Homo sapiens: one gene and its partners. The protein of the gene in region 3 purifies or fractionates together with the protein of the main gene of each other region. This does not show direct contact. Each region holds a gene or a part of one and is shown on either strand. Other genes may lie near its edges.

Region 1 (2,810 bases), on a different chromosome or scaffold from region 3:
CTAGCAGTGCTCAGTTGCTGGCCACTGGCTCTGTGGGTGCGCAGTGGCATTGATTAGTAGGTAGTATACGAGTAGGCTGCTGGTGGTGCGTGAAAATCTCGGTTAGGATTGTGGAAGAAGACTGAATTCTGGGTAATCCCAGGGATATGCTGCATATCAGCACATCCAGGCTACAAAACACATGCTCTGAGCAGTTTCTGATTCTGAAGTTCCCCTTCCCTTCTTAGTTCTGATTGTTAAAGCAGATGCAGAGTTCCGAAAAGTTGTAAATTGAGTAAAAAATTAATTTACTGAGAATGAAAGTGTATCAGCAGTTCCACTCACATATTTTAAAATGTCTAAGAAAGAAAAGAAAAATAAAGGAAGAAGGAAAGGAGGGAAGGGAGGGAGGAAGAGTGAGAGGGATGGAGGGAGGGAGGGGAGAAGGAAAAGGGGTAAAAAAGAAAGCCTGGGGGCTAGGGTGGGAAACACACAAGACTCAGTCTTCAAATACTATCAGCAATTTCATAATATGGTAATTTTTAATATTAAAAGTAAATTGTAAATGTGTCTTTATAAACAATATGCATAAAATAGATCATATTCTAAAACCTTTTCTTTTTAAAATGCTTTTTCACAGTAAATTTCTTAGGTGTCAGATTTTCCCTCAGAATAGTGCAACTGGAAGAAGGGAAATGTTGGCAGTGGCTCAGGACTCTCTGCTAGTACAAGTCCTTGTAGATCTCCTGCAGGAGCGGGTGAAGACTCATGTCTGTCTCCGTCTTCTTGATCACCTGCAGTAGCTGCACGTGTTCCGTGACAATCTGTCTGAGGTCTGTCATTTTCTGGAGCAGCTTGGCAAACAGCTGTGAGGACTCAGGGTGGTTCAGCTTCAGCTGGAGCTCCAGGGCTTGTAGCAGGTTGTCTTGAATGTCTTCAATGGGCTTCACATTCAGCAAACCTGGGCGGTCTGGGGAAGCACATATGGAAAACACAACAGGGGGTTCAGTCAAAAAATCCTCTGGGCCCCGCCTTGGAGGCCTAGGCAGCTCTACCAAGCAACTCATCTGTATTTTTGGTTTGTTTTGCTTTGTATCTTAAATAGGTGGGGAGGAAGGGTAAGCAGATAATGGGTAAGAACTAAGGATGGAATCAGAACCAAAATGATCAGAGCTCTTTGCAGGGCCTTTTTCTGGCCAGGATGTAATCTGTGTGGTCAGCTGAGGGAGCATGGCATCAAAACAATCCTGTTCCCCAAATGAAGTTTCCTCTGCTAACGTGTTTCTACTCAGAAATCTCCTTTTCTTTTCTTTTCTTTTTTTTTTTTTTTGAGATGGAGTCTTGCTCTGTCATCCAGGCTGGAGTGCAGTGGCATGACGTCGGCTCACTACAACCTATGCCTCCCGGGATCAAGCTATTCTCCTGCCTCAGCCTCCTGAGTAGCTGGGATGATAGGTGCTCACCACCACGCCTTTCTAATTTTTGTATTTTTAGTAGAGATAGGGTTTCACCATGTTGGCCAGGCTTGTCTCAAACTCCTGACCTCAAGTGATCCACCCGCCTTGGCCTCCCAAAGTGCTGGGATTACAGGCATGAGCCACTGTGCCCAGCCAGAAATCTCCTTTTCAACTTCTGCTCCTTCCTGATGAATCTACGTTTTATAGCTTCTACTCAGTTTCTTATCATAGCTTCAAATATGCTTTTTTCACAAATATGCTTTTAAAAAAAGGTTTGTCTTTTTGCTTAATTTGCTTATGCTATGTTTGCTTAATATGGCATATTTCCAAAGGACAAAACACAGTTTTAAAATACTGATACATTTTAACAGAGGTTTCTTTTCAGTGGTAAGATTGCAAGCAATTTTCACTAGTTCTTCTTTAGATTTTTCTTTAGTTCAATTTGCAAATGGTGAACTTAAATTACTTTTAAGCAGTTTACTTTTTTCTTTATGTAGATCTTGTTAGATTTATTCTCAAATACTTTATAGCTTCTATTGTGAATGGACCCTTCATTTTCATTACATCTAATATATCCCCACTGATGTGCAGAAAACTAATTGATTTTAGTATATTGAAACAATTCCAATTTTCTGAACTTTTATCAGTTCAAATAGCTTTTAATCATGGATTTCTACTTTTTTTGGATAGATAATTATATCAGCAATGGTAGCTTTATTTATTTCTTCTTTTGCAGCATTAACCTTTCTCATTTCCTCTTCTTGCCATAGTGTGTTGGCTAAAACCTCCAATATGGGATTAAATAATAGTAGCAATAGTAGCAATTCTTGTTTTATTCCTAACTTTGAAGGAAATGCTTCTAATGGTTTATCAGCAACTATGATGTTTGCTATAGATTATGGAGAACATGTTTTACTCCTGGCTTTCCAGGGGTTTTACAATTTTAATTTGTTTTAGTCAGGAATGTTGTTGAATTTTTATCAAATACTTTTACATTTTTCTATCTAAAGAGCTATGATATCTGAAGAGTTATGGTTTTATCTTAACCTAGCACAGTGAATTACATTAATAGAGTTCCTTATACTCTTGTACTCACTTGCTAATATTTTATATAGAGTTTTTGTATTTGTAGGTGATACTGGTTTAGAGTTATTTTGGGGGCCATTCTTTGCCTGTTTTAGTAACAATGTTAACTAGCCTTATACACCAAGTTGAGAGGTTTGCCTTCTGTGTCAACGCAGTAATGATCTGTTCCCTGACGGTTTCTTAGAATTTGTTTGCAGAACCATCTGAGCTTGGTGATAAATCTATCACTATCTTTAATTTTTCTTCCATAGCTTTTATCTATTCAGGCTTTCTACTACTTATATGGTA
Region 2 (7,035 bases), on a different chromosome or scaffold from region 3:
TCACCTCCATATGTGAGGAGAATGTTTTTATTTTCATTAGGTTTTTAAATTAGGGACTGCAGTTTTAAGCTCTGTTGGCTTGAAGCACTGACTCTGAAGACAGCTGTGTTTGTTTCCCAGGGGTGGTCTCCTCTGCAGACTCTGGAGTGCGGTCTCCCAGTACAGAAGGGCTCAGGAGGCCTCAGAAACCAAAGACAAGGCTTGATACCAATCAGCTAAGCTGTGGCAGAGTGTCCCACCACGCTACATGTTTTGTTAAAGCTTCTGTTAGTGTATACACGAATTCCGCTGTGTTTACATATTTAAAAATGCCATTGTTCAATTAATAGTTTAAGAACTTGTTTTAAATACTGTCCTGAGTTTCTTTTGAAACCTGTTATTTATAAACATAGAACTGTGTGTATTGTGAAAACAGTGAGCCTTGGTTTTGACCTCCCGGAATATTAGGAAATTCACTTGTAGTCCCAGCTATGCAGGAGGCTGAGGTGGGAGGATTGCTTGAGCCCAGGAGGTGTGGAGGCTGCAGTGAGCCATGATCACACCACTGCACTCCAGCCTGGGCAACAGAGCCCGACCCTGTCTCAAAAAAAGTACACCCTTCAGCACTTGCTGGAATGGTGAAACAAACAAGGGGTATTTAACAAACATGGAAGCTGGGACACTGCCTCAGAACTGGTATGGTACTTCAATTTGAGAAACACAAAACTGATACGAATGTGCCTTGTAGTTAATGTTTGATATGAACAGAAAATAGCTTCATATTTATACTGAATGTGTAAGTAGAGAAAACTAAGTTATGTGGCCTTTGAAATGATTACAAAATTGGAATGATTACAAAAGTCTTATTTTAAAATGGAACTGTCCTCTTGCCTGATAATAAATATTGTATCTTGTAGAGAAATGGTCAGCGCGAACAGGCTGCAGCACCAGCGCTGCTCGGGGTGGGTGCTATGGTTGGTAGAATGCTGTGAGGGGCCCCGCCATAATGGTCTCCTCCCAAAAAGGTGGCTGGGGGCAGGGGAAACAGGCATACAAGGAATTGTTCTTCCTTTTCATAATTAGAGTATTTGTTCAAAGTATACTATTTTAAGTCAAAAATAATCTTTAAGCACTCAATAATTCATCTTTTAATGCACTAATGTACAAACTGCATGCAATTACTACCTGCTCAATCTACACACTTAATGGAAGTTTCCAAGAATTTCATTGAATTTCATTGACTGGGTTTTCTTCCTCCTTAACCAAGTTGAGAACACTGTCTGGTAGCCCCCTGAAGGTATAACCTCTCCTTCTCCTCCCCTTAACTGACTGACTTAAACTTGATCCACTGATTGGCACCACGAACTTCAAAAGGTGGGTCGCTGGAGTAGATGTGGTAGCCCAGCTCTTCCAAAGGTGGCTCAGGATCGGCCGTGGCAAACTGGGCAGCATCCTCAATCTCCTTCCTCACTTCCACATCAATTTCCTAAAAATTAGGTAACAGTGTAAAAGGTTTTAGAATGAACAGCAGCTTAGGTACCAACTAGAGTTCTGCTGAGGACCTGTTGCTGGTGTAACTCTTTAACTACAAGTACGAACAGTTGCTAATTCAGAAGATTTTGGAATACAGATTTCTAGGGTGTATCTATTTTATGAATTAAAAATCCACAGTATACTTTTAGGAAAAAAGAACCATACTACTGTGGGGGCTTTGCCACTGTGATGGTGGTTCACAGTCCACCAAAATCTGAAATCTGAAGAGTAATACAATTTTGAATAGAGGAAACTAAAGGAAAAGCCCCCACCCCAAGGGACTTTGGAACTATGGAACTATTTATGTCCCAGGACATCACTTTCTGGGCTTGGAGGAACCCACACAAACTCTGTGGCCACCCAGGGGTGGCAACTTTTAAAGCCAACCTTCAAACCACCATGAACAAGTGACTGTACCTTTAGTTCTTCCACACTGGCAAGATTGCTGTTCACCATCCTGTCCTTGAGAAGCATAATAGGGTCACTCTTACTTCTTACTTCCTGAATTTCTTCTCGTGTACGGTAACTATGGGGAGGGAAAAGTAGTAATCGATCAGTAAGAGCAGTTCCAGTAGAGCAAGGACGGCGTGATGAAACATGATATGGGGTTGGATTGTCCCAATGAGGTGAAATACAGAAGTGTGTTTCTGAAACAAAGGGGCATACCAATGCTTATGTCACTATAGGCGTGGCAGAGTTGTTGTTATACTTTCAAAATACCAGAACGCAGCCTAACATTCTGTAATAACTGCTTCTGTCTTTTCTAGAAAACCGTACACTGGTGAGTCACATGGCTTCCCTGGCATTCCGACAACAGGGGCCAAGTTTTTGCTTGCTGCTTTGATTTAGATGTAAGGTTCTAAAGAAGTGTCACTTGTCCCACCCATTTGGGCTCCTGTATACTACATGGGTGGGGACAGCAGAGATGGTGTGTGTGGTGATAATTAGACTTTGAGACATCAGAGCGCCAAGCAGGAAATCCATGTGCCTTGCCTTTCTCCCTTAAGTCCCCCTAAAGAAGCACAGCCAGCAAAACCAATGTATCTTATGCCTATATCATCTGAAGTAACACTAAAAGGATTCTACCATTTTCAACAATAGATTTACACAAAGTGCATTTTTCCATATACTGTGCTCTCTACATGATTTTTCCTTAGAAGTCCACTCTACAAAGGCTTATTTATTCAACTGTGTCAAAACTGGGATTCCAGAATCACAGGCCAGAGCTACTAAGCAAAAAAGTAAAATTCATGCCTTCCTAGTGGAACCTAGCTTTTTTGATTGATGTATTTCAACGGATTGAACACCCAGTTACCCTTAGCTCTATACCAGACAGAGGAACATCTCCAAATTCTGATCCTCTTCAGGTAGAGTATGCCAGGTGTAGACTTGGGGTAATGCCTACAAAAGCTAAATGCCCCCAAGATACTACACTACCATCAGCCCTGTTTTATGTAACAATTTCCCTCTACAATTAAGGTATATAACACTCTTTCTTTAAAAATTGCTGCTTGTGCTCACACACACTATACACTGTAGGCATTTTCAGAAAGCTTTCTTATTAGGAGGCACTGCTTTCAGATAACTTGATGCCCAACACAACTGCGTACATGAAGTGAACTGGTATCTAGCTCCAAAAGCAAATACTGAAATGTGTTGCTTTTGCCATGTAACACCATTCAAAGCCCACCCCTATGGAAACCACACTGCCCATGAGCGTACCTGACTCCAGGGTCACTCATACTGTGTCCGTGGTAACGGTAAGTCTGCAGCTCCATCAGGATGGGCCCCTAAAACAGAACCGGTAGGCAGTTAGTTAGTTAGGAACGATGACTGGAAGAACAGGCCGGCAATCCACGGCCTCAAACGCAGGCCCTTTATTAAGCGTCCAGTGTAGTCTTATCAGATCTTCTGAGTTGTCACGAATTTCTTATTGGTTGACTGATCTGTTCTCATTTCTAGCAAGTATTGATTGCATATTTCATCTTTCTCATTTTTAATAAGGCAATCTGCCAACAGCTTGTTTTGAATCAAAAAGGCTTTGAAGGCCAGGCATGGTGGCTCATGCCTGTAATCCCAGCACTTTGGGAAGCTGAGGTGGGCAGAGCACTTGCGCCCAGGAGTTCGAGACTAGCCTGGACAACATGGCAAAACCCCATCTCTATCAAAAAATACAAAAATTAGCCAGGCATGGTGGCGTGCGCCTGTAGTCCCAGCTACTTGGGAGGATCACCTGATTCTGGAAGGTCAAGGGTGCAGTGAGCTGTGAGTGTGCCACTGCGCGAGACCCTGTGAAAAAAGAAAAAGGCTCTGAGCATGTTCTAGAGCCTCCTGCTATTGGCTAGACAGATTTCCATCTCATGCTCCTTTCTCATGGTGTGTTGTGGGGCTGGCAGCCACTCCTACTTCACAGACCTTGCTAGTGTGTAACAAAGTTGGCAGGCACCAACAACCTCTGCTACCCAAACCCCAAGGCTCTGCTGGGAGTCTGGACAGTTGGGCTCGCTCATTCTACACTAGCCCACTTCCAGGAGACGGCTCTGAACACTGGGGTGGAGAAACATTGAGGATCCTTGGTTGGTTTGGTGCAGCAGTTAAAATGGGCGAGTGGGGAGCTGGCTCCAAGACAGAGTAGCTGTGTACCTTTAACTGCTCTATGGCTCAGTTTCCTTGTCTGCAAAATGGGCAAAACAATAACACCTAACTCAGAATTGTGAAGGTTATCTGTTTGGGAAAGTCACACATTCTACAACTACATTCTACAACTCCCCTTGTCTCCAGCCAGGGCTGGCCCCCATGTATTCTTTTCAGGAATTGGGAGAGGTGGCGTCAATACCCATCACTCAGGGCCTGGCACTCCCAGCCTTAGGGTCCTGACATAGACTGCTCAGCCCATTGTACCCAAGCTGTAGTCTTGGTCCTGCTCTAGTTCATTCTACTCATTAGCTCTTATTTAATGTTACTACATTCCCACCCTCACTTCCCTGTCTCTCCACTTTGTGACATTTCCATCATTGCTGGCCACATCTGATTCACATCACTGCCTAAACGTACATGGTATGGCGCTGAAGTGCCAACTTCAGAAACCTTGTTTCTGGGCTGTAGAACACTGATTTAGGGAGAACACCCAAACCTCCTAAGCCTATACTAGTGCCAAAGGAAGTGAAACCTCTTTAGGCCAGTCTCCCTCTTACCATCTCCCTCACTGCCATACACTGAAAAGGGAAAGATCCTTAGGACTGAGCAAGACTAAGATTACGAGCTTCTACCATACTGTTTAATTTGTATAAGACACACATATTAAATGCCTATTGTATACATGACATTCTATGCTGGACACTGTGGGGATCCCCAATCTGTTCCTTCAAGGGACTCATGATTAATGGGGGGTGGGGAGGAGGGACAGAATTAACCTAAGGAAAAGGCAAATCAGTTGTCATGAAGACAGGCCAAAGCAGAGGAAGCACCAGAACGGACTTCCCCCAAATGAGAGAAACGTAGGCTTCCCAGCAGGTGAGCTACCAAGACCAAGCTACCCAAAGGAGCCCTGCTCCCTTCACTCTGCTTCCATCTCATGCACCTCAATTAGCAGGTACCCACTAACAGCTTCAGCAGGCACATGGGAGGCAGTCTTTGAACTTCCAGAGATAAATGTCACTAGCCCAGAGGGCTTTAGAGCCTTACCTTCCCAGATCTACAATAGGCAGCAGCAAACCTTGTTGCCTCTCGGACGCACAGGATATCCATTCCATCCACCTGGTAATAAACAGGGGAGGGGCGAAGCATGAATCCAACTGCCCCAAACCATTTTACTTTCACATGACCTGCTCCTGTATGAGAATGAAACTCTCCAATGTTTCTAAGATCGTCAAGGGTCTGCACAAGGACATACCCTTGGCCTTGGCCTTGGCCCCGGCCCCACCACAGGTGTCCTTACTCTCAGCCCAGGAATGAAATCGCCTCTCTTGTAGTAATCAGTGCTGGCTGCCGCTCTCTCAACAGACGTTCCCATTCCATAGCGATTATTCTCACAGATGAAAATACAAGGTAATTTCCACAAAGCTGCCATGTTGTAAGCTTCGAATATCTGGCCCTGGAAGTAGTTACGAAAAGGGGTTTCATTTGGCTTCTTTCTCCAGGCTTCATCATCTCTAACAGCTGCTGCTCTGCCTGGCACAGAAAGCTTTCATAAAGCACAGAAAGCCTCCTCTTCTAAAACCGAGCTTTGGGTGGTGAGGGAAAGCGGGGTGGGTGGTGGAGGAGAAGTAGCAGGCATCATACTCTTGCAACTAAGGAAGGTGACAAACCAACTACTACTTGTTTCTTTGGGGCCATGCTAGCAGTAAGGAACACACTGGAAAAAAGATCAATATGAAATCTATCAGGCCCACTGGATAGCCAGAGTGAACCAGCACCTAAGAATCAGCCTCTAGAACAGGGCTTCACAGAGTGCTGGCCACAGACTGGGGATTACTCGGTAACAAGAGAAGCATAGAAACTGAGTTAGGACTCAGACGCTATTATCCGAATTTGACACTGCCAGCCCGGACATCCAAGAGAATGGGTCTGTATTGTTTTGCAATAGGTTGTGGGGAGGTCCTTTACCACAGGGCCTTTGCCAAGCACTGATGTAGAGCAAAGGTGAGCTCCTTCACAGGAATGTGCCCCCGTAAGTCTCTTGTGAAACAACGCTAAGAGGTCAATCTCTAATCTGGCCATAAGTCAACCAAATTTGAGCTAGCCATAGGACTTGCTATTTCACCTAATAAGCAATATGCTACTTCTTTAGAAATTCAACTGTAAATATTAAAGACTTTGAAAATAAGACTGTTTTTGGGAAGTTAAGAGACATAATTACCTGGTTAGCAGCACCATCGCCATATAAAGTCAGGCAGACCTCATCTTTTCCATTATACTTACAGGCTAGAGCAATCCCAGCGCCCAGGGGCACCTAACATTAAGGACAACCGAGAAAGGAACCACAGAAATCCATGAGGGGAGATACTAATTAATGCCCTGCATTTTCACTCCTGGCCAGAATCTGACACAGAAATTACACTGCTGCTACAAACTCTCCTTCCAACCCTATCTCTCTGTTTATCCCACCTCCGATATTTTCAATAAAGCACTAAAGTAATATATAAATACTATGTTCTATTTTAACCAGTAAGCACTAACATTTCTGCATTCAAGAGTTAAAAAATAAAACCTGGCCGGGCGTGGTGGCTCACGCCTGTAATCCCAGCACTTTGGGCAGATCACGAGGTCCACAGATCGAGACCATCCTGGACAAGATGGTGAAACCCCGTCTCTACTAAAAATACAAAAAATGGTTGGGCATGGTGGCACGTAACTATATTCCCAGCTACTCGGGAGGCTGAGGCAGGAGAATTGCTTGAACCCGGGGGTGGAGGTTGCAGTGAGCTGAGATTACACCACTGCTCCAGCCTGGGCGGCTGAGCAAGACTCCATTTCAAAAGGAAAAATAAAACCTAGGTTTAAAAAAAAACAACACATAATAGA
Region 3 (7,035 bases):
AGCTAGACTCTGTCTAAAAAAAAAAAAAAAAAAGTATCCATCATGTGCCAGGCTCGGTGGCTTACGCCTGTAATCCCAGCACTTTGGGAGGCTGAGACAGGCAGATCACTTGAGGTCAAGAGTTCGAGACCAGCCTGGCCAACATGGCAAGACCCTGTCTCTACTAAAAATACAAAAATTAGCTGGGCATGGTGGCGCATGCCTGTAATCCCAGCTACTTAGGAGGCTGAGGCAGGAGAATTGCTTGAACCCGGGGTTAAAGGTTGCAGTGAGCCGAGAGCACCACTGCACTCCAGCCAAGGCAACAGAGCAAGACTCCATCTCAAAAAAAAAAAAGTATCCATTATGAAATACGTAAGACACAGGGGATGTGGAACACAAGGGCGCCTGTGTATCAATAACCCAGGCTAAGAAAGTAAACATGTCCACAGTTACAACCACCACCGCAGGCCCACCCCACCCTCCCAGCGACAGCCCGTCTCCACCACACTGGGACTATTAATCCCTTCCCATCACCTTCTCAACAGCCCAGCGTCCTTGCTTGAGCTGAGTCAGAAGATGCGCGCACCAGCATGTCTTGGTCGAGCTCCTGGCTGGCCCCTGAGGGCCACGTCACTCTGACCCCAGCCCTGACCCATGGGATGCACAAGCTGGGACAGACAAAAGCAACTCTATGTAGCCAGGAACAGCCCAGAGCTAGAACTCAGAAATATGGCTCCAATCTCACTGCAGGTATCGAGCAGGAAGAGGATCATCCAGGCACGGACAGATCCGAGGTGTCTGCACGGCTACCTCGGGTATCCTGCCCAGCCACAGGGAGGGTGGTGGTGATCCCAACACCTGGGCCCAGCCTTCCTATGCAAGGGACCCACTTAGGGCTCTCCTGGAAATTTGCAGAAGCTTTTAGGAAGGAGGCCAGGGAGACGGGAAGCAATTTCCCTACTCCACTGGAGGCAGCTGAGCCTTCCCTGGCAAAAGCAGATCAATAGTCTGTGTTTCTGCTGAGTGAACTTGACAAATGGGACTGAGAAGACACTGCATGATAGATCCAAACCCAACCTGAATCCAAACCTAATCCGCCACCATGCACAGGAAACAGAAAAGCCAGGCACGGGATCAGAAATACTGTCGACAGTCTAAGGACTTGGGTAGGAATAACCGCCCAAAATCTTCCGTTTCCATTCTCAGAAGGAGCTGCCCTTCTTCTAGGGCCAGTCTGGGATAGATTCAGATGAGGGGAAATTCTCTTAGAATTATCCTGTCAGTATTGGCTGGGCACCGTGGCTCACGCCTATAATCCTAGCACTTTGGGAGGCCGAGGCAGGCAGATCACTCGAGGCTAGAGGTTGCAACCAGCCTGGACAACACGGCACAACCCTGTATCTACTAAAACTACAAAAAAAAAAAATTAGCCAGGCATGGTGGTGCATGTCTGTAGTCCCAGCTACTGAGGAGGCTGAGGCATGAGAATAGTTTGAACCTGAGAGGCAGAGGTCGCAGTGAGATGAGATCGTGCCACTGCACTCCAGCCTGGGCAATAATAAATAAACAAACAAACAAACAAACATTTAGAATTATCCTGCAAGTATTTACATAATAGCTGCAATATTCAGGCATTGTGCTGGTCTCAGTGTACACAAAGCACTGACAGTGCAGGGTTAGGAAGAGAGCTTAAATAGCTACAATAGAATTCTAAAAAAATCAGCTGGGCGTGGTGGCCTGCACCTGTAGTCCCAGCTATGCGGGAGACTGAGGCACAAGAATTTCTTGAAGCTGGGAAGCAGAGGCTGCAGTGAGCCGAAATCATGCCACTGTGCTCCAGCCTGGGCGACAGAGCAAGATTGTCTCAAAAAAAAGAAAAGAAAAAGAAAGAAAAGAAAAGAAGAAAGGTCTAAAATCAATGACCTAAGGTCTACCTTAAGAAATCAGATTAAAAAGAGTAAAGGAAAAAGCAGTTTGACACCCCTTGTTCTCACTAAGATGAGGTGTTACATTTCTGGGGTCAGTCTGGAATGGGACATATTAATAGATGGGCCATGTCCCATGACTCCTCAAATTGTACCTGGGGATAGTTCCTTTCAAGCTAATTTGATTTTTTAATTTCCCCACATCTTTATCATGGGAGCCATTGGCGAACTACAGACCTAGGATACAGGAGAATTTTCTACTGTCACCCCTTCCCCCAGGCCCACATCCTATCCGTGAGGCTCAAGAAGGCCCACTTTGGAAGTTCCACCTCTCCCAGCCTGGTTCAACCAGAAGACTTCCAATCCAAGTCCTCCCTCTGGTTAGGGAGCACTGTTCATATTTACCTATTTGTGTCGATATTTACAGAATACATACCATTAAGGAGAGAATACTGGTTAATAAAGTACAGGAGTTTTATGATATATCTCTAGTTGAGATCCAGTTCTGTAATTTACAGGCAACCTAGGCCAAGTTACTTGTTCTCTTTGAACCTCACTTTTACCATCTGCAAAAGGGGGGATAACACAACTGTTCACTTCATAGGCTTGTTGAGAGGGTTGAATTAAATAATGTGTGCCAAGTGTGACCCACGGCAGGGGCTCAATCACCGGGAGCCATTGCTTCTACCAGGCTTTGGGCAAAGTGCTGAGGAGATGGACACTGACCCAGCTCTACCCTCTAGGAGTCCATAGAATGTTCCTCACTCCCACCCTCCGGATGCACACTGCCTCCACCGCGCCTCACCTTGGATCCTCAGGCTCTCCTGGTACTGGATGATGAAGTACTCCTGAGTCTGCTGCAGTTTCTTCAGCTCATTCTCTGTGTCCTGCGTGACCAGTCGCAGCTCCTCAAATGTCTGGTTGATCTGAAGGTGCTTCTGGGACATGGCGTCAACCAGGATCCCAGCCGGAGAGCTGCACTGGAGACAGATGGAATGGAAATAACTCGGGGAAGAGAGGATGGGAGAAGACCACAGGCATTAGGAAACACCAATACTACAGACCCCAAACCCCAAACCCCAAACTAGGGTAAGAAGGGAAACTAGGGCAAGAAGGAAGGATCATTTGCATCAGAAGGAGTCATTTGCCAGAATTGGGATAGAAAAGGGAAAGAGAAAGGAGAAACAGGTGACCTGGCAGATAACGGCAGATAGTAACACCTTCAAAGTCCAAATATCTATGTCAGAGCTGCCCTCCACTAGAGTATTCCAAACAGGGTCCATCTAATTTCCTCCCAGGGACTAGAACTCAACACGTCCCAGGTGTCACCTGGGTTTTCCCACTAATGATGATGACCCCTCGCTCTACATTTATTTGCTGACTCAATACCATGGACTGCAGTAGATCCTAGGGACATAGGGAGGAACAGGGCTGTGTGAACACACACCATCTCACTTAAGACCCCCTTGTGACTGAAGGAAGAGGGAAGAGGCCGAAACTCTCACAGGCATCCTGGAGACCCCGAAATGAAGTTAGAGGGGAGGCATCAACAAGCTCCCCTTGGATCCAGCCATTCCTTCAGCACATTCAGGAGAATCGCTTGAACCCAGGAGGGGGATGTTGCAGTGAGCCGAGATTGCGCCACTGCACTCTAGCCTTGGCAACACAGCGAGACTCCGTTTCAAAAAAAAAAAAAATAGAGAGAGAGGGGTAGAAACCAGGTCACAAAGGGAGGGAGCACATGGATGAAGAGGAACAAGTCCTCAGAGGCTTTCCAATGAACTGTTCTCAGAATAAAATCCAAACCCCTTCCCATGGTGTCTGCTGGCCATAGCCCTGCCTACCTCCAACCCCAGCTCGCTGGGAATGTGTGCTTTCTGTTTCTGTTCCTTGAACACACAGGCATGTTCCTGCCCTGGGGCCCTTGCACTTATTGTTCCAACAGTCTGGAACATTCTGGCATCAGATCCTCCTGAGGCAAAGCACTTTAACTGGTACCATTGCAGAGGGGTCATCTCTGACGAGCCAATTCACAGTAGTCCTATCTAAAAGTGTGTTGTTCTTGTATTTGCTTACATGTTTCTGTCTGTCTCCCTGCACAAGGATGTGAGGTTCCCAAGGGCTAGGACCTTGCCTTTCCTGTGAACTACAGAATCCCCAAGCCCTAGAATGCCAGGGGTGTTCAGGAACAGTTGTATGGTTGGAGGAAGGAATGAGCTCCCAGACCATGACAGCACCAGCACCATGGACATGGATTTGTCAATGAGGCTGAAGTCATTTTTAGGTTTGCAGATAGCTCTGTGATGGCAACAAGTCAGGGACACAGGGGCTGTGCTGGAAGACCCTTTGTGACCTGGTTTCTAACCCCTATTTTTTTTTTTTTTATACAGAGTCTCGCTCTGTTGCCCAGGCTGGAGTGAAGTGGTGCAATCTCAGCTCACTGCAACATCCCCCTCCTGGGTTCAAGCAATTCTCCTGCCTCAGCCGCCCGAGTAGCTAGGATTACAGGCGCCCGCCACCACGCCTAGCTAATTTTTGTATTTTTTAGTAGAGACTGGGTTTCACCATGTTGGCCAGGCTGGTCTCGAACTTCTGACGTCAGGTGATCCGCCCACCTTGGCCTCCCAAAGTGCTGGGATTACAGATGTGAGCCACCACGCCTGGCCCTCTCTATCTATTTTTATCCATGGCAACTCCCCACTTGGTTCCTTCTCCCCAGTTACACTGACCACTTACAAGTCTTCCAATGTGATAAGAAGATTCATGCCCTCCTGCTCTCGCAGCTGCTGTCTTTTCATTAGAAAATTCATCCCTCCTCTCCTGCCTTTCTCCACTGTAGCTCAGACATGCCTGTCCACAGGACGCTCCCCTGCCAGCCTGCCCCAATCTGAGTTGGGTGCTTTTTCCACCTAGGCCCCCTTAGCACTCAGCTCATCTCTAGAGAATCCATCACTGCCAGAATTCCTTCCAGGCAAGAACCAGGCCTTTATGTGTTTCTCTGATGATAGCCCAGCATCGGACACACAGTAAGACCTCAATAAATGTCTACTGAGTAAATCCTGAAATCCATGTCCACAACAATAAATACGTAATAGGCCGGGCGTGGTGGCTCATGCCTGTAATCCCAGCACTTCGGGAGGCCGAGGCAGGTGGATCACTTGAAGTCAGGAATTCGAGACCAGCCTGGCCAACAGGGTGAAACCCTGTCTCTACTAAAAATACAAAAATTAGCCGGGCATGGTGGTGGGCCCCTGTAATCCTAGCTACTTGGGAGGCTGAGGCATGAGAATCTCTTGAACCCAAGGGGTGGAGGTTGCAGTGAGCCGAGATCACGCCACTGCACTCCAGCCTAGATGATAGAGTGAGACTCAGTCTCAAAAATAAATAAACAAACAAACAAATAAAGAAAGAAATAATAAATATGACCTGTGCTCCGGTCACTGTTCTAAGATTTCTGTCACGTCATGTTGTGAAATTCATTTTGCTCTATTGCAGATAGTACAGCACTGTGCCATTGTCCATGTAGATGCCCAGTGCCTTTATTATTTCAGAACTGGGGAGATGTGTCCCTGTTACCCCTCCCTGGGCCTCACTTCTCTGAGCCTGCCTGTGTTAGTTCTTCTGACACAGATAGGTATGATTGCTATCTCCATTTTACAAGAGTAGGAACAGGCCGGGCACGGTGGCTCACGCCTGTAATCCCAACACTTTGGGAGGCCGAGGCGGGTGGATCATGAGGTCAGGAGTTCAAGACCAGCCTGGCCAACATAGTGAAACCACGTCTCTACTAAAAATACAAAAAAAATTAGCCGGGCATGGTGGTGGGCACCTGTAATCCCAGCTACTCGGGAGGCTGAGGCAAGAGAATTGCTTGAACCTGGGAGGCAGAGGTTGCAGTGAGCAGAGATCACATCACTGCACTCCAGCCTGGGCAACAGAGCAAGACTGCATCTCGGGGGGGAAAAAACAGTAGGCGCCAAGCGTGGTGGCTCACGCCTGTAACCCCAGTACTTTGGGAGGCCGAGGTGGGCGGATCACGAGGTCAGGTTGAGACCATCCTGGCTAACACAGTGAAACCCCATCTCTGCTAAAAATACAAAAAATTAACCGGGCATGGTGGTGGGCGCCTGTAGCCCCAGCTACTCGGGAGGCTGAGGCAGGAGAATGGTGTGAACCTGGAAGGCAGAGCTTGCAGTGAGCCGAGATCACGCCACTGCACTGCAGCCTGGGTGACAGAGCAAGAATCCGTCTCAAAAAAAAGAAAAAAGAAAAAAGAAAAAAAAACAGGAACAGAGGCTCAGAGAGATTAAGCAACTTGCTCAAGTCACACAGCTAGTAAGTGGTAGAGCCAGGGACTGGATCCAGGGGGTCACTCCACCCCGGCGTGCAATGCTGCCACCTCTTACACTTGCCCACGTCCCTCATCTTCTTGGTGCTCTCCTCGTGCTGCTGTTTTATATAAACACAGTTGTTTCTGGAGAGAAAGGCATATGGAGGGACTTCTCAACACTCCTCCCCATCCCCAAGGGACACTCACATTGTTGGCTTCTCGGACCAGCCTCTGTTCATTGTACAGAATGTGCCGGATGCAGCGGACCAGCTCCAGGGGGCAGCGGTCATATGTTTTCTGAAAGAATCCAACAGTAGCCTCCAGCGCCATCCTCTGCTCCAGCCATGCCAGCCCCATGCTATGCCCAGCCCTTCCTCTCCTTCAGCCTCTGCCTCAGCTTTTCCCAGGGAGCCTCAGGAACTATCCCCAGACACCTCTATATCTCTGTTCCTCATCCTCATCTTCCCCTCCAAGATCTTCATATCTGGTTTGGAGCGAATTAAAAACCCACAGTTTATGAGGCACTTTCTCTTTTTTTTTTTTTTCTTTTTGAGATGGAGTTTTGCTCTTGTTGCCTAGGCTAAAGGTGCAATGGTGTGATCTCAGCTCACTGCAACCTCCACCTCCCGGGTTCAAGCGATTCTCCTTCCTCAGCCTCCTGAGTAGTTGGGATTACAGGCATGTGCCATCACGCTCGGCTAATTTTGTATTTTTAGTAGAGGCGGGGTTTCTCCACGTTGGTCAGGCTGGTCTCGAACTCCCGACCTCAGGTGATCCACCCGCCTCGGCCTCCCAAAG
Region 4 (7,726 bases), on a different chromosome or scaffold from region 3:
CAATATAGTTATTTGCATAAGTGCAAATAAGTATCTGTTTTCTTTTGCAACAGGACACAATTGGAGAAACTGGTTATTTTATCAAGGCTTTGACTGGAATGGCATGTTTTCTTTTAAGGAATTAAACTTAACTTATAGAGCCAATAGAAGCCCCTTGGGGAACTGGCCTCATACCTTGCCTACACAGTCCTTGTACAGGATTTCTGACCTGTGGTAAGTAAAGAATGTCACTTTCTAACAGACCCAGGAACTCCAAGTTATCTTGGAACCTCAAGAAGAGAGGAATTTACCCAACTCATACGTATTTGAGGGTACAAACCCATGGCAAAAAGTCTTATCTAAGATTCCTTCTTTGGAACAGAGTTCCAGGAAAGCCAATTTAAAAAGAGCTTATGTGGCTGGCTGTGGTGGCTCACACCTGTAATACCAGCACTTCGGGAGGCCAAGGTGGGCAGATCACTTGAGGTCAGGAGTTCGAGACCAGCCTGGCCAACAAGGTGAAATCCTGTCTCTATTAAAAATACAAAAATATTAGCAGGGCACGGTGGTGGGCACCTGTAATCCCAGCTACTTGGGAGGCTGAGGCAGATGAATCGCTTGAGCCCAGGAGGCAGAGGTTGTAGTAAGCCAAGATCGTACCACTGCACTCCAGCCTGGGTGACAGAGTGAGACTCCATCTCAATAAATAAATAATAAAAAGAGCTTATGTGAAAAATAATTATTCTTGCTACACTTTATATAAATAATCAGGCCAAGTATAACAAAGCAAATCAGTCTTACCAAGATTTGCCTTTAGTAAAAATGGGAAACTGGAGAGAGAAATATAATGTTTCAAGAACTTATGGTACACTGGTTATTAGATTCTAGTCTCATCAGTTGTTTTTAAGTTTGTTTCTGCAATTTAGGCTAACCCAGCTTATTCCTGTGAACCAACCAGTGATCTCTGACTGCTGCTCAAAACAAACAAGAGTGATGGTGTCAGGTCTCTGAGCCCAAGCCTGCACGTATTCATTCAGATGGCCTGAAGCAAGTGAAGAATCACAAAAGAACTGAAAATGGCCGGTTCCTGCCTTAACTGGTGACATTACCTTGTGAAATTCCTTCTCCTGGCTCGTCCTGGCTCAGGAGCTCCCCGACTGAGCACCTTGTGACCCCCCACTTCTGCCAGCCAGAGAACAAACCCCTTTGACTGTAATTTTCCACTACCTACCCAAATCCTATAAAACGGCCCCACCGCTATCTTCCTTCGCTGACTCTCTTTTTGGACTCAGCCCGCCTGCACCCAGGTGATTAAAAAGCTTTATTGCTCACATAAAGCCTATTTGGTGGTCTCTTCACATGGACGCGCATGGAAGATGGGTAATGTAAAAATCTGAATCGATATTCTAATTCTGAACACACTGGAATCAGCTAGCAACCCCACATCAGCTTGGTTCCAACAGTTGCCCAGTTCATGGAAAGCCTTCTAATTTAGTTTACTTGGGATAATTTTACTTATTTTGCTTTACTCTTGTGGAATATATTGCTATTGTACTCTTTGTGTAGGAGTGCAGGATAAGCTTACTGAATGTTTTCTTAAACTGAATACTTATTAATCTTCCAGATATCACCTTTTGTCAGAACTTGGAGTTATGAATGGCCCTCACTATACTGATGTTTTCTGAGCTCCTCTCTACTCTGAACATAAGGGACCCTAATAGTTAAGCAGGAATATCATCACCCCTATTCAGCCTGAAGAAGTTACAGAAGATGCATCTTCATCCCTCCGAAACTTTTAGGATTAAAGTTTCTCTCATAATAGGGAGGAGGCAAATGTCAGAGGAATGTGAACCAGAGCAACTCCATCTTGAATAGGAGCTGGGTAAAATGAGGCAGAGACCTACAGGGCTGCATTCCCAGACAGTTAGGCATTCTCAGTCACAGGATGAGATAGGAGGTCAGCACAAGATACAGGTCATAAAGACCTTGCTGATAAAACAGGTTGCAGGAAAGAAGCTGGCCAAAACCCACCAAAACCAAGACGGCGATGAGCATGACCTCTGGTCATCCTCACTGCTACACTCCCACCAGCGCCATGACAGTTTATAAATGCCACGGCAATGTCAAGAAGTTACCCTATATGGTCTAAAAAGGGGAGGCATGAATAATCCACCCCTTGTTTAGTATAAAATCAAGAAATAATCATAAAAATGGGCAATCAGCAGCCCTCAGGGCTGCTCTGTCTATAGAGTAGCCATTCTTTTATTGCTTTACTTTCTTAATAAACTTGCTTTTGCTTTGCACTGTGGACTTGCCCTGAATTCTTTCTTGTGTGAGATCCAAGAACTCTCTCTTGGGATCTCGATCGGGACTGCTTTCCTGTAACATCTCCTTTTGCTTGGCAAATCTGATCCTGAAATCTTTTGGTGCTAGGTTGTGGGAAAGGTGGGAAGGACTGATTCACTTTTTCATTCTGAGCACCACCCACAAACTTTTGGGGGCTGAAATCTCAAGTTCAGGAGTTTCTCAGGGATGCTGTGGCAGTCTAGGAAGTGCTGGCCATTCCTGAGGCCCTGGCAGGGACAGTTGGGACTAGACGATGGTGGCAGGTGAGGGAGACTCAGAAGGTGTTGATTCCATATCTTGAAGATCTTCTATCCATTTTACAGATGAAACAGTCCCAGAGAGTAAATGTCATCTCTATGCAGCTGTCCCCAAATTTCTACCTTTAGCCCTGACTAGGCCCTAGGCTCCAGGCAACCTGGGTATGTCCCAGTCATCTAAAGAATAAAGGCTGGCTGCAGTGGCTCATGCCTGTAATCCCAGCACTTTGGGAGGCTGAGGCGGGTGGATCACTTGAGGTCAAGAGTTCAACATCAGCCTGGTCAACATAGTGAAAACTCATCTCTACTAAAAATAAAAAAAATTAGCCGGGCATGGTGGCAGGTGCCTGTAATCCCAGCTACTCGGGAGGCTGAAGCAGGGGAATAGCTTGAACCTGGGAGGCAGAGGTTGCAGTGAGGCCCACTGCACTTCAGCCTGGGTGACAGAGTGAAACTCCATCTCAAAAAATAAACAAAAATACACTCTTACTTCCCCAGCTCCTGGCACTTACACTGCCCCAGGCTCCTCCCTTACCCCATCTATCCATCCAGCAATGACAAAAATCCAAAATTTTCCTCTGCTCTTCCCTAGCACTTACAGCATTCCTATTGATTCTAGCCCAAATAGATCTCAAAACTGTCCCCCTCCTCTCCATCTGGAAGTTGCCTCCTAGTCTGCCTCTGTTGCTGCCACAGACTTCCCAGCATCCGCCTGTTCTGCCTTTGCCTCCACCCCCTCCCATTCCCAGTCAGCAACCTACTGGAAGTTGCAAATTCCTAATTTGGCAGCCTGCAGCTGTGATCCATAGAAGGGAATGTTTGGAATGTCTTGGGGATGGGTGGAGACTGGGTGCTCAATTGTCCCATCTGACCCCCAAGGGCCAAATTAAGACTAATGAGCTTCCAGAGGTTGTCCCTATGGCCAAGTGTTTGGCACCTCCCCATAAGGGAGGAGACCACCCCTCATATTGTCTTATGCCCAATTTCTGCCTCCAAAGAAAGAAAAAGTAAAAACTAAAAGGCAGAAATGAAATCCACAAACAGACAGCCTGGTGCCACACCCTGGGCCTGGTAAAGATCGACCCCGACCTAATCGGTTATGTTAACTATAGATTACAGACATTGTATAGAAAAGCACTGTGAAAATCCCTATCCTGTTCCAGTCTAATTACCGGTGCTTGCAGCCCCTAGTCACATACCCCCTGCTTGCTCAATCAATCATGACCCTCTCACGCACACCTCCTTAGAGCTGTGAGCCCTTAAAAGGGACAGGAATTGCCCATTCAGGGAGCTCGGCTCTTGAGACAAGAGTCTTGCCCATGCCCCTGGCCGAATAAACCCCTTCCTTCTTTAACTCGGTGTCTGAGGAGTTTCGTCTGCGGCTTGTCCTGCTACATCCATAGGGCCGCCCTTCTCTAAAGTTGTTGTAACCTTCCCCCAAGCAGGAATCCACTTCTGCTTTAGGAAGCAGTGGGAAAAAGACCATGCTTTAGAGTCAAGACAGTCCTAAATTAAAATATCGGCTCATTTAATCAATTTCTGCTTCAGTTTAACCGTCTTCAAAATGGAGATAATAATAACACTAATTACCCAAGTGGGGTACTGTGAGAATGAGCTATACAGCACATATCTCAATGCTTGGCTCACAGTAGGTGCTTAATGCAATCAATGAAAGCTATGATGTGCATTATAAGGAATCAACAGACAGCACTGTCCAGGGAAGACTAGACTCACTCATGAAGTGTTAAGTTCCCCATCAGTAGAGCGTGTGCAAGCACTTCTTGGTGCCCAAAGGATTCCAGCACCCACAACAGGTTGGCCTAACTCTTAAGGTCTCTCCAGCTTCCAGAGATCATGCTCCTCAGGGTCTGACTTCTAGTCCCCACGCTTCAAGTAACACCGACCAGGCACGTGTGCCCAGCGTGCACCCCGCCTGTCGGTCACCGCCTACTGTCAATAAAGTTGATTTGAGGCGGCTCCAGGCAGAGGGGCACGGCCACCCACACGCCACCTCAGCCCGGCCCCGCGGCCCCTCACCCGGTGGGCGGGTGGGCGGGTCACGCAGCCGGCGCGCCTTGCCATTGGCCCGCGCCGGTGGAGGCGGGGCCTGCTCACGTCTGCCGGCCCCTCTGTTGTCGTTTGGCAGCGGATAGAGGACACGACCAAGATGGCGGCGGTGTCTGGCTTGGTGCGGAGACCCCTTCGGGAGGTAGGCAGCAGCGCGCGGCCTGTATTCCCACGCGACCCCTGCCCACCCTGCGTCCCGCCGTCATCTTCCTCTCTCCCTGCCAGGTCTCCGGGCTGCTGAAGAGGCGCTTTCACTGGACCGCGCCGGCTGCGCTGCAGGTAACAGGCGCGGGTGCTCGTCGGACGAGGGCGGGGAGGGTCCCCCCTTCTCTCGGGAAGGAGGCCGGAGTCGCGCCTGCGCTGTGGCCTTCCGGCGCCGTGGGCCTTGGGTTTGCGGAGCCAGCATCCTCCGTGGAGCTCCTGCTGCCTCTGTCGCCGCCTGGCAATTAGCACACCGGCGAGTCACCACCTCACAGCTGGCTGGGCAATGGGGGAAAACTAAGACTAGGCGTTTCCTCCCTCACTCCATGTTTTTTTCTTTAAATTGCAGCAAAATAGACCTAACTTAAAATGTACTTTTTAGAAGTGTATAATTCAGTGGCATTAAGTACATTCACCATGTTGTACAACCATTAACCACCATCCATTTCCAGAACTTTTTAATCATCCCAAGCAGAAACTGTCCATTACTCGGTAACTCCTCATTTCCCTTCCCCAAACCCCTGGTAACCCCTGTTGTACTTTTCTGTCTTTATGAGGTTGCCTATTCTAGAACTTCTTATAAGTGGCATCATTTGTCCTTTTGTGTCTGGCTTATCTCAGCGTAATGTCCTCAAGGTTCATCCATGTTGTAGCATGCGTCAGAGTTTGATTCTTTCCTAAGGCTGAATAATATATATATGTATATTTTTTTGAGATAGTCTCCCTCTGTCACCCAGGTTGGAGTGCAGTGGCGCGATCTCAGCTCACTGCAACCTCCACCTCCTGGGCTCAAGGGATTCTCGCGCCTCACACTCCTGAGTAGCTGTGATTAGATGCCGGTGCCACCACACCGGGCTAATTTTTGTATTTTTAGTACAGACAGGGTCTCACCATATTGCCCAGGCTGGTCTTGAACTCCTGGCCTCAAGTGATCTGCCTGCCTTGGCCTCCCAAAGTGCTAGGATTACAGGCATGAGCCACCTCGCTCAGCCCGACATTTTCTTTTTTTTTTTTGAGACGGAGTTTTGCTCTTGCTGCCCAGGCTAGAGTGCAGTGGCACTATCTCAGCTCACTGCAATCTCTGCCTCCTGGGTTCAAGCAATTCTGCCTCAGCCTCCCGAGTAGCTGGGATTACAGGCACCCGCCACCACACCCGGCCAATTTTTGTATTTTTAGTAGAGAATGGGTTTCACCATGTTGGCCAGGGTGGTCTCGAACTCCTGACCTCAAGTGATCCACCTGCCTTGGCCTCCCAGAGTGCTGGAATTACAGGTGTGAGCCACCGTGCCTGGCCTTGTTTTGTCTATTGTGAGTAATGCTGCTGTGAACATTGATGTGCAAGTATATGCTTGAATCCCTGCTTTCAATTATTTGGGGCATATACATAGAAGTGGAATTGATGGATTGTATGTTAATTCTCCTCTCCTTCCTTTTTTTAACTAGATTTTACCATTCATTATATTAAAAGAGCAACTCCTACATTCTGGATGCAAAGTATTTGGCAGTACTTGGCACCTAGTGAGCACTCAGTACATTAACACATGCAAAGACCAACTATGTGTAATAGAAATGTTACTTTTAGAATTCTTTGAGTTTTTAGAGAGAAGCTTGTTCTAGTGTTTTTATATTGTATGCTGTGGGCAGCCTAGGTAAATATAAAGGAAGAAAATCTTAGTTGAATCCCAAACAATTCTGTATTGACTGTTTTTGCATACCTGTGACAGGTGACAGTTCGTGATGCTATAAATCAGGGTATGGATGAGGAGCTGGAAAGAGATGAGAAGGTATTTCTGCTTGGAGAAGAAGTTGCCCAGTATGATGGGGCATACAAGGTAACTAAAATATATGAAAGTTATACAAAATTGAGGTCACTGTTACCCCCAGATACACTTAAGGGATCAACTCTTAATTGTAGGTTAGTCGAGGGCTGTGGAAGAAATATGGAGACAAGAGGATTATTGACACTCCCATATCAGAGGTAAGCCTTCCAGTGGGAAGCAGACCCTGGAGGGCATGTCTGTTAGTGTCCATTATCCTCATTTTTATGGATTTTCACTTATGTTTATATTTTACTTTATAGATGGGCTTTGCTGGAATTGCTGTAGGTGCAGCTATGGTATGTAATACTCTTTATGAAACTTATCCAAAGACATTTCTTGTTTTCTTTTTTTTTCTTTTGAGACAGAGTCTCACTCTGTTGTCCAGCCTGGAGTGCACTGGCACCATCTCAGCTTCCAGGTTCAAGCAATTCTCCTGCCTCAGCCTCCATAGTGGCTGGGGTTACAGGTCGCGCCACTGTGCCTAGCCAATTTTTGTGTTTTTAGTAGAGATGGGGTTTTACCATGTTGGCCAGGCTGGTCTTGAACTCCTGGCCTCAAGTGATCCGACCGCCTTGGCCTCCCAAAGTGCTGGGATTACAGGCGTGAGCCACTGTGCCCATCCCCAAAGAGATTTAACATCACCTTTTAAAAACATCATTTGGGAAAAAAAAAAAATACCAAGTAGGTAGATGTGGTGGTGCTTGCCTGCAGTCCCAGCTACTCGGGATGCTGAGGAAGGATTACTTGAGCCTAGGAGTTAGAGGCTGCAGTGAGCTATGATGTGTGCCACTGCACTCCAGCATGGGTGACAGTGAGACCCTGTCCATAAAAAATAAAAATAAAAAATAAAAACATTATTTGAATGTTGGAAGACTTGGAGTGATTTGTTTGCTACTGTTTGTTGCTGTTTCTAGTCTTTTTAACATCCACGTTTTTGATTTTACAGGCTGGGTTGCGGCCCATTTGTGAATTTATGACCTTCAATTTCTCCATGCAAGCCATTGACCAGGTTATAAACTCAGCTGCCAAGACCTACTACATGTCTGGTGGCCTTCA

What was found.
Region 1: the proteins of STAT5A (region 3) and PPARG purify together in Homo sapiens (affinity purification with western blotting; 2 studies listed by BioGRID). This does not show direct contact.
Region 2: the proteins of STAT5A (region 3) and PDHA1 purify together in Homo sapiens (affinity purification with mass spectrometry; 3 studies listed by BioGRID and IntAct, with this or other methods). This does not show direct contact.
Region 4: the proteins of STAT5A (region 3) and PDHB purify together in Homo sapiens (affinity purification with mass spectrometry; 3 studies listed by BioGRID and IntAct, with this or other methods). This does not show direct contact.

The regions. Positions count from the first base shown.
Region 1 is NC_000003.12:12,432,037-12,434,846, reverse strand, and holds the end of PPARG (peroxisome proliferator-activated receptor gamma), read right to left. Parts: intron 950-2,810; coding exon 702-949; 3' UTR 503-701; downstream 1-502. UniProt on the Homo sapiens protein: Nuclear receptor that binds peroxisome proliferators such as hypolipidemic drugs and fatty acids.
Region 2 is NC_000023.11:19,353,919-19,360,953, reverse strand, and holds part of PDHA1 (pyruvate dehydrogenase E1 component subunit alpha, somatic form, mitochondrial isoform 1 precursor), read right to left. Parts: intron 6,464-7,035; coding exon 6,371-6,463; intron 5,606-6,370; coding exon 5,450-5,605; intron 5,269-5,449; coding exon 5,197-5,268; intron 3,303-5,196; coding exon 3,235-3,302; intron 2,039-3,234; coding exon 1,930-2,038; intron 1,466-1,929; coding exon 1,301-1,465; 3' UTR 206-1,300; coding exon of another isoform or gene 121-205; 3' UTR 1-120. Other genes in the region: MAP3K15 (mitogen-activated protein kinase kinase kinase 15), read left to right, coding at 121-205. UniProt on the Homo sapiens protein: The pyruvate dehydrogenase complex catalyzes the overall conversion of pyruvate to acetyl-CoA and CO(2), and thereby links the glycolytic pathway to the tricarboxylic cycle.
Region 3 is NC_000017.11:42,291,471-42,298,505, reverse strand, and holds part of STAT5A (signal transducer and activator of transcription 5A), read right to left. Parts: intron 6,535-7,035; coding exon 6,445-6,534; intron 2,888-6,444; coding exon 2,713-2,887; intron 1-2,712. UniProt on the Homo sapiens protein: Carries out a dual function: signal transduction and activation of transcription. Mediates cellular responses to the cytokine KITLG/SCF and other growth factors. Mediates cellular responses to ERBB4.
Region 4 is NC_000003.12:58,430,833-58,438,558, reverse strand, and holds the start of PDHB (pyruvate dehydrogenase E1 component subunit beta, mitochondrial isoform 1 precursor), read left to right. Parts: upstream 1-4,726; 5' UTR 4,727-4,749; coding exon 4,750-4,791; exon of another isoform or gene 4,792-4,874; coding exon 4,875-4,928; exon of another isoform or gene 4,929-4,964; intron 4,965-6,574; coding exon 6,575-6,682; intron 6,683-6,765; coding exon 6,766-6,828; intron 6,829-6,930; coding exon 6,931-6,966; intron 6,967-7,616; coding exon 7,617-7,726. UniProt on the Homo sapiens protein: The pyruvate dehydrogenase complex catalyzes the overall conversion of pyruvate to acetyl-CoA and CO(2), and thereby links the glycolytic pathway to the tricarboxylic cycle.